Homo sapiens: one gene and its partner. The gene in region 1 interacts genetically with each later gene. Each region holds a gene or a part of one and is shown on either strand. Other genes may lie near its edges.

Evidence for each region.
Region 2: of MYBL2 (region 1) and CCNT1, changing one suppresses a phenotype caused by changing the other (phenotypic suppression), as found in Homo sapiens cells (one study listed by BioGRID).

What each region holds. Positions count from the first base shown.
Region 1 is NC_000020.11:43,712,034-43,717,085, forward strand, and holds the end of MYBL2 (myb-related protein B), read left to right. Parts: intron 1-968; coding exon 969-1,073; intron 1,074-3,100; coding exon 3,101-3,250; intron 3,251-3,925; coding exon 3,926-4,054; 3' UTR 4,055-4,449; downstream 4,450-5,052. UniProt on the Homo sapiens protein: Transcription factor involved in the regulation of cell survival, proliferation, and differentiation. Transactivates the expression of the CLU gene.
Region 2 is NC_000012.12:48,713,538-48,721,082, forward strand, and holds the start of CCNT1 (cyclin-T1), read right to left. Parts: upstream 3,171-7,545; 5' UTR 3,139-3,170; coding exon 2,978-3,138; exon of another isoform or gene 2,748-2,977; intron 988-2,747; coding exon 906-987; intron 1-905. UniProt on the Homo sapiens protein: Regulatory subunit of the cyclin-dependent kinase pair (CDK9/cyclin-T1) complex, also called positive transcription elongation factor B (P-TEFb), which facilitates the transition from abortive to productive elongation by phosphorylating the CTD (C-terminal domain) of the large subunit of RNA polymerase II (RNA Pol II).

The DNA of each region.
Region 1 (5,052 bases):
GGATGAGCCAGCCAGGCCAGGCAGTGCCTGGCTGAGTGTCAAGCTGCATGAGCTGGGGGTGGGGGAGTGGGTTCAGGTGAGGTGGAGTCTGCAGGGGCTCCTGGGCAGGGGGGCAGGGAAGGGACTGTCCCAAGCCTCCGTTCTATGCCAGCCTCCCTCCCACTGCGTCGTTAGCTTTCATGACAGTGCGCGATCCCTTCGAGTCTCCTAGTGCTCCTTTTTCCCAGACTGCTCTCCTCAAGGGAGAGCTGGGAACGGTGGGATGTACAGGGTGTTAGGTAAGGAGGGGAGGTGGGCGGTCAGCCTGGGCGGGACTTGCCCGAGCTGGCACCCCATGTGCACGTGGAGAGAACTTGGCCTCTGGCCTCCAGGGTCCTCCCTGGCCTCTCCTTGGTGGGGATGGTTGTGAGCCATGGCAGCCCCTGCTGAGTGCACTGTTGGGTAGAGTGGGGATGTGACTCTCAGAGCCGCTCCCTGGTATCGGAGCAGGCCCTGGACCTGCTTCTGTGAGGTGCACGGTTAGGAATGGGGCGTTCCTTGATTGTATTAGGCATTGTAGAGGGGCTTGTCCTGAGGGGTTTGTGTTCCCATATTACTGGCCTGTGGGTGCTATTTTAGGTGTTACTGGGGTGATTCTCTGCTGGGCCTGTTTGAGGGGCTGTGTCTGGTCCATTCGGGGTGAGAACAGGTCACTTCGTGGTGGAGGTTCATGCTGTGTTCCTGCTCACTGTCGCAGCACCTGGCAGGATAGGGTCTACCTTGGGTACAGAGTCTAATGGGGCCATGGGGCCTAACTTTCCCAGCCACCCCATTCTTCTGACAGCAGATTCCCACTAGCTGGGCCTTGCTCCAAGTCTGCACTGCAGCAGGGCCTGGTTTTGTGACCATCCATGGCCATGACCATCCAGGTGCTGACCATGGGGAATCCAGACACTCACCCTAACCCCCTTCTATCTGCCAACCCCTAGCTGCGGCGGAGCCCCATCAAGAAAGTCCGGAAGTCTCTGGCTCTTGACATTGTGGATGAGGATGTGAAGCTGATGATGTCCACACTGCCCAAGTCTCTATCCTTGGTAAGGCTTCTGCTCCTTGGAACTGTTGAGTTTTGGAGAGGACCCTCAAGGTGGAGTTAGTGTAGTGACTCTCCAACTGGGCTTCTGGAACCCTGGGCTCTGCAGGGAGGGGCTATCAGGGAGGGTGGGTCCGGGCACCCACTCATGGCTTCAGTCAGCAGCTCTGCTTGTCTCTCACAGAAGGTTTTGTTTGGCAGAGTTGCGCGGCTAGGACATGTTTTAAAAACATGCATCTGGGTCTCCTGCGCTCTCCCAGAGAGGGTCAGTGATGTGTCTTTTTTTTTCTTTTTTTTTTTTTGAATTGGAATTTCGCTCTTGTTGCCCAGGCTGGAGTGCAATGGTGCCATCTCGGCTCACTGCAACCTCCGTCTCCCGAGTTCAAGTTGTTCTCCTGCCTCAGCCTCCCAAGTAGCTGGGATTACAGGCATGCATCACCACGCCCGGCTAATTTTGTATCTTTAGTAGAGACGGGGTTTCTCCATGTTGGTCAGGCTGGTCTCGAACTCCCCACCTCAGGTGATCTGCCTGCCTCGGCCTCCCAGAGTGCTGGGATTACAGGCGTGAGTCACCGTGCCCAGCCTAGTAATGTGTCTTAAGGTATAGCCAGGCACTTGGGCACATTAGTCCTGGGATGGGTGCTATACAGCCCCCAGGCCAGTGGACTTGCTGTGCCGGGTGCTACAGTGAGGTCGACCTCAGAAAGGGGGTTGTTGCCTGTGCAGAGCCTGGGTCCCCAGAAGCCAGGGTGTGCTGCTGATCCCTCTCTGCTCACAATGGGGTGAGTTGGCTTGCCCTGGCTCAGAGTGGGGAGGCGGTGAGAGGCATGGCGGCGTCATGAACAAAGGTTAAGGGTTGCCTGATCTTCCAAGTAGACTGCTGCCCTCACGGTCCTTGCAGAGAAACCTTGTCCTGGCTAGGGGTCTCTGACAGGCTGGGGACCTGCAGCCAGGTTACTGCAAAGAAAAAAACATCACCGCAGGGAGTGAAGAGCACAGATTGAGTCAGGTGGGCCTGGGTTTGAGTTATGACACCATCACTGCTCTCTGGGATCTTTCAGGTTCCCTGAGCCCCAGTTAAAAGCCTATAAAAGGGGTGCCAAGCCTAAGTCAGGAGGGCACAGTGCCAAGCAGAGCAGAGAGACTGGAAGGGCGTGGGAGGGGCTTTGTGCAACTCCGCTGTGCTTGGGGTTGAAGCTGCGTCTTTATGATGCTTGTGGATGTTTCTGGTCCCAGGAAAACTAGGAACAGCCTTGGCTCCTCCTGAGGCTTTATGTGACAAAGCCAACGTTATTGAGTATGTTATTACTGGATAATGCTCAGTGATACTCCACATTTATTGATTATGTTATTATGGCCTGGGGGCTGCACGGCACCCATCCCAGGGCTGATGTGCCCCCACGTACTTGACTGTGCCTCCAGACACACCACTGAATCAGGCTCTGAAACGCACACACGTTTCTTTACTTGATTACTTGATTTTTTTTTTTTAAGTAAGAAAGTTCTTTAGAACAAGATTAAGTTCTTTGCTTAATTTTTTTTTGAGACGGAGTCTGGCTCTGTCTCCCAGGCTGGAATGCAGTGGTGCAATCTCGGCTCACTGCAAGCTCCACCTCCTCCCAGGTTCGCACCATTCTTCTGCCTCAGCCTCCCAAGTAGCTGGGACAACAGGCGCCCACCACCACACCCAGCTAATTTTTGTGTTTTTAGTAGAGACGGGGTTTCACCCTGTTGACCAGGATGGTCTCGATCTCTTGACCTCGTGATCCGCCTGCCTCGGCCTCCCAAAGTGCTGGGATTACAGGCGTGAGCCACCGCTCCTGGCCCTTTGCTTAATCTTTTAAGTATAAAGTAAGCTTAAGCTCATGTAAACTCCCTATCTGAAAGCAGAAACTGAGGCTTGGAAAAGTGTGTATCCTCTTTCAGGTCTCAGCAGCCAGGTGGTGGTGCTGGGGTGGGATTGCGGGTTTTTTTCTTCCCTCTCACAGCTTCTCGCAAAATGGTGACTCCTTGACTTGGTTTTGGTTTCAGCCGACAACTGCCCCTTCAAACTCTTCCAGCCTCACCCTGTCAGGTATCAAAGAAGACAACAGCTTGCTCAACCAGGGCTTCTTGCAGGCCAAGCCCGAGAAGGCAGCAGTGGCCCAGAAGCCCCGAAGCCACTTCACGACACCTGCCCCTGTGAGTGCTGTGGCCATCTCTGGGGGTCCTGCAGTGCCCGCCTTCTTAGCTCAGGGCTGAGTGCTGGCCATCCCTGGGGGTCCTGCAGTGCCCGCCTTCTTAGCTCAGGGCCTTTGCATAGGCTGTTCCTCTGCCTGGGTGCTTTTCCTGCTACTTCCCGTGGCTGCATTTGCTTAACTTACTCTTCTGATTTCAGTCTCAATGCTGCTTCCTTAGGGGTAAGCCTTCTCTGACCCTACATTCTGTAGAGATACCCCCATTCTGCCATTCTCTCTTTTGTGGCCTGGGTTTCACTTGTAACTAAGTCATTATCCCTGTATTTGGTTTGCTTAGTACATGTCTGTCCTCAAGCAGGGGCTGGCTTCAGGCTGCTGACCCGTCTCACTGCTCCTTCTCACCCGCCTCCTGGCTGTGGCTTCTCCTCGAGGCTGGTGCTGCACGGGGCGGGCAGTGCATGGCCATGTCTCCTTGTCCAGCGTCCTACTTACAGTTGAGGAAGCCCACAGCCAGGAAGTGACTTGTCCAGGGTCACAGGGAATGTGGAGAGAGAATAAGAAGGCTCTGGCTTCTAGGGGAGGGAGGCTTATAACTCTACCCTTCCCTGGCCAGGATCACCAGGGTCTGTTGGGAACACATAGTCCCTGCCTGGATGGTAACCCTCTTGCCTCCTCCCAGATGTCCAGTGCCTGGAAGACGGTGGCCTGCGGGGGGACCAGGGACCAGCTTTTCATGCAGGAGAAAGCCCGGCAGCTCCTGGGCCGCCTGAAGCCCAGCCACACATCTCGGACCCTCATCTTGTCCTGAGGTGTTGAGGGTGTCACGAGCCCATTCTCATGTTTACAGGGGTTGTGGGGGCAGAGGGGGTCTGTGAATCTGAGAGTCATTCAGGTGACCTCCTGCAGGGAGCCTTCTGCCACCAGCCCCTCCCCAGACTCTCAGGTGGAGGCAACAGGGCCATGTGCTGCCCTGTTGCCGAGCCCAGCTGTGGGCGGCTCCTGGTGCTAACAACAAAGTTCCACTTCCAGGTCTGCCTGGTTCCCTCCCCAAGGCCACAGGGAGCTCCGTCAGCTTCTCCCAAGCCCACGTCAGGCCTGGCCTCATCTCAGACCCTGCTTAGGATGGGGGATGTGGCCAGGGGTGCTCCTGTGCTCACCCTCTCTTGGTGCATTTTTTTGGAAGAATAAAATTGCCTCTCTCTTTGTGCTGGTCTGGACTCTGCCTCTCTACTGGGCCCTGCTCATGGTTCCCTGGTGACCTAGGGGCCTCTTCTGGGATATAGGGACCTGAATGCTCATCCTCAGAGGCCAGCCTTATCGGCACAGCCCAGGCCTGAGCCCTTGACCCTGTTTCCACAGAGGGGCACAATGAGATGAGAGCAATTTCTCTCGTCTCTGCACCCAGTGGGCATCTCTGCAAAGCTCTGAGTATTAATAGCCATGGGGTTGGGCGGGGGTGGGCAGAGACTGGGGGCGGAGGAGGACGATGGGTTGGTGCAGTAGGGCCTTGCCTGGCCCTTGCCTTGGGTGGCTCACCTGCCCATTAACAAGCCCCTGCCTCAAGCTGAGCGTGGCCCCCAGGTCAGACCAGTAAGCAAGGAAGAGGGGTGAAGGCAGCTGGGCAGAACCCTCTAGCCCCATTGGCCAAGGCTGAGCAGGAGGCCAGGATGGGCCAGAGCCTCTGCCCTTGTGGCCCTAAATCCCTAGGGTTGTGGCTACAGAGCACAGTGCTTGGCAGGTGGTTGGGAAGAGTCACTGGGGATTGAAGAGGGGAAGATGCCAAGTCTGAGAATGTCTAAATGAGGA
Region 2 (7,545 bases), on another chromosome or scaffold:
TTTTAGAAGGCGGAGGCGGAAGGATCCCTTGAACCCTGGAGTTTGAGACCAGGCTGGACAACACAGGGAGACCCCATCTTCACAAAAAAAATTTTAAAAATTACCAGATATGTTGGCAAGCCTGTGGTCCCAGTTACTTGGGAGGCTACGGCAGGAGGACTGCTTGAGCCCAGAAGGTTAAGGCTGCAATGAGCCATAATCAAATCACTGCATTCCACCATGGACAACAGGGCAAGACCCTGCCTGTCTCCCTACCCCAGCAAGAAAAAGAAAGCTATACCTAAATTCCACATGATTTCCCCTTTAATGTTACTCCTCCAACCCCAAAATGTTGACTTTAGATGTCTGATAATCTGTTTTTTGGGGTTTTTTTTGAAGACAGGGTCTCACTCTGATGCCCAGGCTGGAGTGAAGCGACTCAATCTTGGCTCACTGCATCCTCAACTCCCTGAGTTCAAGCAATCCTCTTGCCAGCTGCTGGAGTAGCTGAGACCACAGATGCATACCACAACACCCAGCTACTTGCTTTTTGTTTTTGTTTTTGATATTTTGTAGAAATGAGGTCTCATTATGTTGCCCAGGCTGGTTTTGAACTCCTGGGCTCAAGTGATCCTCCCATCTCAGTCTCTCAAAGTGCTGGGATTACAGTTGTGAGCCACTGCACCCGGCCTAATCTACTTCTTTAGAGAATCGACATGGATATACTAAATCCACTAGACAAGTAGACACTTAACAGGAAAACTGAAAAGCTGGATTCAGAACAGCAACACAGCACATAATGGAAGTGATCAACCCTAAATTCTAAAGTTCAAGTTACAGTTCAGTAGCAAAGACCAACCACAAATGGAATAGGTAGGTGGAATCAATCACAAAAGGATTATATCATATAAAAAAATTATACTTACATTTCCAGGGAACTGTGTGAAGGACTGAATCATGTAGAATCGATGCATGTATACTATAGCAGTGTTGATAGTCAATTGTGAGCTGAAGTGTTCAAGTTAAGATCCAAAAACAGGCAGGTATAATTCTGGAAAAGATAACCTCTATCTCCCTCCCAAAAGGATGAAATGGCCAAGCAAGTAGATACTACTAAATGAAAATCATACTTATCTCTCCAAATCAAAGAATATGTCTGTTTTCTTTCACCAAATTATTAATCGCCAACTGACACTTAGCACAATGCCTTACACATAACAAATATTTAATATAAATGTACTGAATGAATAAACAAACATCTCAGGATGTATGAATCTAGACAGATTTTTTTAAAAACTATATAAGGCGGCCAGGCGCGGTGGCTCACACTCTGTCGCCCACACTGGAGTGCGGTGGCACCATCTTGGCCCACTGAAACCTCTACCTCCCAAATTCAAGCGATTCTCCTGCCTCAGCTTCCCCAGTAGCTGAGATTACAGGCGCCCACCAACAGACCTGGCTACTTTTTGTATTTTTAGTAGAGACATGGTTTCACCATGTTGGCCAGGCTGGTCTTGAACTCCTGGCCTCAACTGATCGACCTGCCTTGGCCTCCGAAAGTGCTGGTATTACAGGCGCGAGCCACCGCGCCTGGCTGACAACCTTAATGACAACACACATACAAAAAGGAAAGCATTTTAAGGATGCACTGAAATAGAATTTCGAACAAAAAGATTTAACTCCATACTGACAGGATGCTTAGGAAACAAACCTGGACATCAGCAGGAAACAAACTGGCGATAAAACAGACACCCATTTTGAGATGAACACACCCTTAAGATACACACATTACTGTCAGCCACACATTTAAATAGAAGCTGCACCCAAGAAAATTTTCACACGCAGAGTGGAAAGAAATTTAAAACTATACTAGTTTTCTCCACCATAAAATAAGTGTATTTCCTAACAAACAAAAATATGTGGGAGAGGTTACCTCATTTTTTTTTTAATTTTTTTTTTCTGAGACGGAGTTTCACTATTGTTGCCCAAGCTGGAGTGCAGTGGCGCCATCTCGGCTAACTGCAACCTCCGCCTCCCGGGTTCAAGCGATTTTCCTGCGTCGGCCTCCTGACTAGCTGGGATTACAGCTGCCCGCCACTACGCCGGGGTAATTTTTTGTATTTTTAGTAGAGACAGGGGTTTAATCATGTTGGCCAGGCTGGTCTCGAACTCCTGACCTCAGGTGATCCACCCGCCTCGGCCTCCCAAAGTGCAGAGATTACAGGCGTGAGCCACCGCATCCAGCCGTTACCTCATTTTTGAAAATGAAATACATATCATCACTCTAAGTAAGTTAAGGACCCGGTATTTTGTAAACTATTTAAAACATTAGATTCGTGGGTATCCCCTACAAACGTAAACTAACATCTTTCCTCTGAAATTCTATAAAACAGTAGCTACTAACTGAGCATCTGAATGCAAAGCACTGTGCTGGACACAGAATCAAACACAAGAGGTATTATCCCATTTTATAGACAAGACGGCCAAAAATTTGAGAGGTCACTTAAACAGCTAGTAGATGAGGAATGGATTTTGGACCAAGGCTGAGGCATTAATTCTAGTCCACCCTTTATAACACTTTCAGGTACTGAATTTCTCGAAATTTACACACTAGGTTTGGGAGGCAGCCGTCAACAGAGAAACCTCTGCCAGACCTAGACCCCTAGGGCACAGCGGAAAATGAGAATCTTAACGTCACCAGAGCAGATCAGAACACAATGAAGACAGAGTTGGAAGGGCTGGTTAAAACACAAAGCCGGGAAGGATACGAATTCCCAGCAAGGCTGGCGGCACGGGTGAGCGAGCGGGAAATCAACTCTGCCTCGCTTCCCTAGCGCTAACTGAGTTTCAGCCCGCCCCATCGTGGGCTCTCCCAACTAGACATCCAGCTTCTGCCCACCTTCTTCCCCACTTTCGTCCCCCCCACAGAGCCTGAGACCCGGACGCCAGAGCATGGCGGGACCAACTCCAAGGCCGAAGGCCTAGGCCACAAGGATACACGTTAAGACGCTGCCCCATGTCCTGAAGCAGATTGGCCGCCTGCTGGCGATAAGAAAGTTCTTTATCTGGGTCCACGCCAAAACGACGGGATGGGCTATTTTCCAGCTGTTCTCGAGTGAAATACCACCGTTTGTTGTTGTTCTTCCTCTCTCCCTCCATAGTGCTTCAACCAGAAGGCAGCGGCGAAGGCTGCAGGCACTTCCCAGCGTCACCTAAGAGGCGACCCACATCCGCTGTGCGGGGGCAACTGCGACTTGACGAACTTCCGCTAAGCGTCGACCGCCGGGTTGTTACTTGCCTCCGTAGAGGAAGCAAAAGTCAAAGGACCTACTTCCGGAATGCACCTCGCTACACCCCGTAGCCGAGTTAACAGCCAATATGCGACCAGAAAAAACCTTGAGGCGAGGACGCAGGCGCGTCACGTGACCGTTGGGCGGTGGAGTGGGGTTAGAAGTTCTTTCTTAAAAACCGTGTATCTTCCCGCGAGAACCGGATTGAGCGTTGGCGCCCCGGGTCAGGCTGCGAGGCCGCAATTATAGTGGGATGGGGCGGCCGCCCACGCGCCGCTTGGCGGTTCTTACGAGAACTTTGTTTGTGACGGCAGTGGTGATGTAAAATGGGGCAGATGGGCCGGGCGCGGTGGTTCACGCCTGTAATCCCAGCACTTTGGGAGCCCGAAGCGGGCGGATCACGAGGTCAGGAGTTCGAGACCAGCCTGGCCAATATGGTGAAACCCCCGTCTCTACTAAAAATACAAAATTAGCCGGCGTGGTGTCGCGCGCCTGTAGTCCCAGCTACTCGGGAAGCTGAGGCAGGAGAATCGCTTGAACCCGGGAGGCGGAGATCGCAGTGAGCCGAGATCACGCCACTGCACCCCAGCCTCCAGCCTGGGTGAGAAAGCGAGACTCCGTCTCAAAAAAATAAAATAAGTAAAAATGTGGCAGATGAACTTGAAAGAGAAAGTAGGTGAGGCTGTCAGAAACTGAAAAACAGAATCAAATGGTGGGGCTCTTTCGTATATCGGAGCATAAAGCAACTAGAAGGCTGTTACATTGTTGGTAGCAATGTAAAATGCGACAACCCATTTGGAGAGGTCGCTTTAATGTGTAGCCAAAGGCATGAAAACATTCTCACGTTGTTCGCCAGTGATCCAACTTAAAGGAATAAAATGAAATTAATAACATTAATTAAGAGCTTACATGTCCCAGGCACAATACTGACTTAAATATACTGTTTCATTTATTCAGCACAACTCTAAGAGGTAATTTTTAAGTACGTTTGCGAATGGGTGAACTAAAACTGCCCCTTGAGTGTGGAAAGCCTCCACCACTACCCCTCACTTGCACAGATTAGCAAGTTCTTGCCCTCTGTCAAAATATTTCCCAGCTCCTTTGCCGGGCGCGGTGGCTCAAGCCTATAATCCCAGCACTTTGGGAGGCCAAGGCGGGTGGATCACCTGAAGTCGGGAGTTCGAGACCAGCCTGGCCAACATGGTGAAACCTCATCTCTACTGAAAATACAAAAATTAGCCAGGCGTGGTGGCGCACGCCTGTACTCCCAGCTACTCGGGAGGCTGAGGCAGGAGAATCATTTGAACCCGGGAGGCAGAAGTTGCAGTGGGCCGAAATCGCGCCACTGCACTCCAGCCTGGGCAACATTGCGAGACTCCTTCTCAAAAAAAAAAAAAAAAAAAAAGATACATCCCAGCTCCAGCCTCTGATAACTGTTTGGTGCTGGGCAAGATAGTTAACTTCTCTATGCCTCTTTTCTGTGATAATACCTATGTTTTAGATAGTGAAAGGGAGTAAAGATTTAATGAGTAAAAAGTATTTATAATAGTACCTAGTACTTAGAAAATATTCAGTAGCCCTTATTGTTATAATATTTGTTACATTGTATTGAAATTGAAGGCAAGAGCAATGCCTTCATTTTTGTATGGCACTTACCTAGTAAAGCCCTGGCCCTAGTAAATAGTCCATAAATCTTTGTCAGATAAATGTGCAAAACACCCACAATACAGAAACTGAGGCTTTGGGAGTTTGCCCTCACTACACCACTAATAAGTGTAGATCTTAAATCTAATTCCATTGATCTTTCCATTCACGCAAGCTGTATTCCTGCTTTTCTGGAACCATATTCAGTTTACCTTGATTAAATATGGGTAATTTTAGATAGATTTGGATAATATTAGAATCCTTCATCTTGCTTTGATAATATTTTGGGTTTTGTCATTTCTAGGCATGGGTGATCTTACTATGCTTGATTGTCATTCATTCTCAGAAGTATTTCTTTCCATTCAGGTCACCTCTGCCATATACTGCCTGTAGTTAGTATTAGCTCCATTTTACCCTGGAGAAATTGAGGTTCAGGAAGATTTAAATGACTTACTTCTAGTTATAAAGTAAAAGAACTTGGGATTTCAAATTTCTTCCCTCACAGACTCTTTACTATTAAGAGAATAAGCACTTACAAAATAGATTTTTTAGTAGAATAAGCACTTTTTCAGTTATGTAGTCATGTATGTTATCTTTTGAACAGCTGTGTTAGTCCATTTTCACGCTGCTGATAAAGACAAACCCAAGACTGGGCAATTTACAAAGGAAAGAAGTTTAATGGAGAACTCACAGTTCCACGTGGCTGGGGAAGCCTCACAATCATGGCGGAAGGCAAGGAGGAGCAAGTGACATCTTACATGGATGACAGCAGGCAAACAGAGAGCTTGTGCAGGCAAACTCCCATTTTTTTAAAACCATCAGATCTCATGAGACTCATTCACTATCATGAGAACAGCACAGGAAAGACCCACCCCCATAATTCAATCACCTCCCACCGGGTTCCTCCTACCATATGTGGAAATTGTGGGAGTTGCAATTCAAGATGAGATTTGGGTAGGGACACAGTGCCAAACCATATCATTCCGCCCCCAGCCCCTCCCAAATCTCATGTCCTCACATTTCAAAATACAGTCATGCCTTCCCCACAGTCCCCCAAAGTCTCAACTCATTTCAGCATTAACTCAGAAGTCCACAGTCCAAAGTCTCATCCGAGACAAGCAAGTTCCTTCCACCTATGAGCCTGTAAAATCAAAAGCAAGTTAGTTACTTCATAGATACAATGGTGGTACAGGCATTGGGTAAATACAACCATGCCAAATGGGAGAAATTGGCCAAAACAAAGGGGCTACAGGCCCCATGCAAGTCCGAAATCCAGCAGGGCAGTCGAATCTTAAAACTCCAAGATGATCCCCTTTGACTCCCTGTCTCACATCCAGGTCACACTGATCCAAGAGGTGGGTCCCCATGGTCTTGGGCATCTCTGCCCCTGTGGCTTTGAAGGGTACAGCCTCCCTCCTATCTCCCTTTCCAGGCTGGCATTGACTGTTTGTGGCTTTTCCAGGTAAATGGTGCAAGCTGTCAATGGAGCTACCATTCTGGGATCCGGAGGACCATGGCCCTCTTCTCACAGCTCCATGAGGCAGTGGCCCAGTAGGGATTCTGTGTGGGGGCTCCAACCCCACATTTCTCTTCCACACTGCCCTAGCAGAGATTCTCCATGAGTGCCCTGCCCCTGCAACAAACTTCTGCCTGGGCATCCAGATGTTTCCATACATCTTCTGAAATCTAGGCGGAGGTTCCCAAAGCCCAATTCCTGACTTCTGTGCACTCACAGGCTCAACACCATGTGGAAGCTGCCAAGGCTTGGGGCTTGCACCTCTGAAATCACAGCCCAAGCTCTGTGTTGGCCACTTTCAGCCATGGCTGGAGTGGCTGGGATGCAGGGCACCAACTCCCTAGGTGGCACACAGCACACATGGGGACCTTGGGCCTGGCCCACGAAGCCATTTTCTCCTAGACCTCTGGGCCTGTGATGGGAGGGGCTGCCATGAAGGCCTCTGACATGCCCTGGAGACATTTTCCCCATTGTCTTGGGTATTAACATTCAGCTTCTCTTTAGTTATGCAGATTTCCTCAGAAAATGGGTTTTTCTTTTCTATCACGTCAGGCTGCAAATTTTTCAAACATTTATGTTCTGCTTCCCTTATAAAACTGAATGCTTTTAACAGCACCCAAGTCACCTCTTGAATGCTTTGCTGGTTAGAAATTTCTTCGGCCAGACACCCTAAATCATCTCTCTCAAGTTCAAAATTCCACAAATCTCTAGGATGGGCAAAATGCTGCCAGTCTGTTTGCTAAAATATAACAAGAGTCACCTTTGCTCCAGTTCCCGACAAGTTCCTCATATCCATCTGATACCACCTCAGCCTGGACCTTATTGTCTATATCACTATCAGGCTTTTGGTCAAAGCCATTCAACAAGTCTCTAGGAAGTTTGAAAATTTCCCACATTTTCCTCTCTTCTTCTGAGCCCTCTAAACTGTTTCAACTTCTGCCTGTTACCCAGTTCCAAAGTCACTTCCACATTTTTGGGTATCTTTTCATCAACACCCCACTCCTGGTACCAATTTACTGTATTAGTCCATTTTCACACTGCTGATAAAGACACACCCAAGACTGGGCAATTTACAAAGGAAAGAGGTTTAATGGAGAACTCACAATTCCACATGGC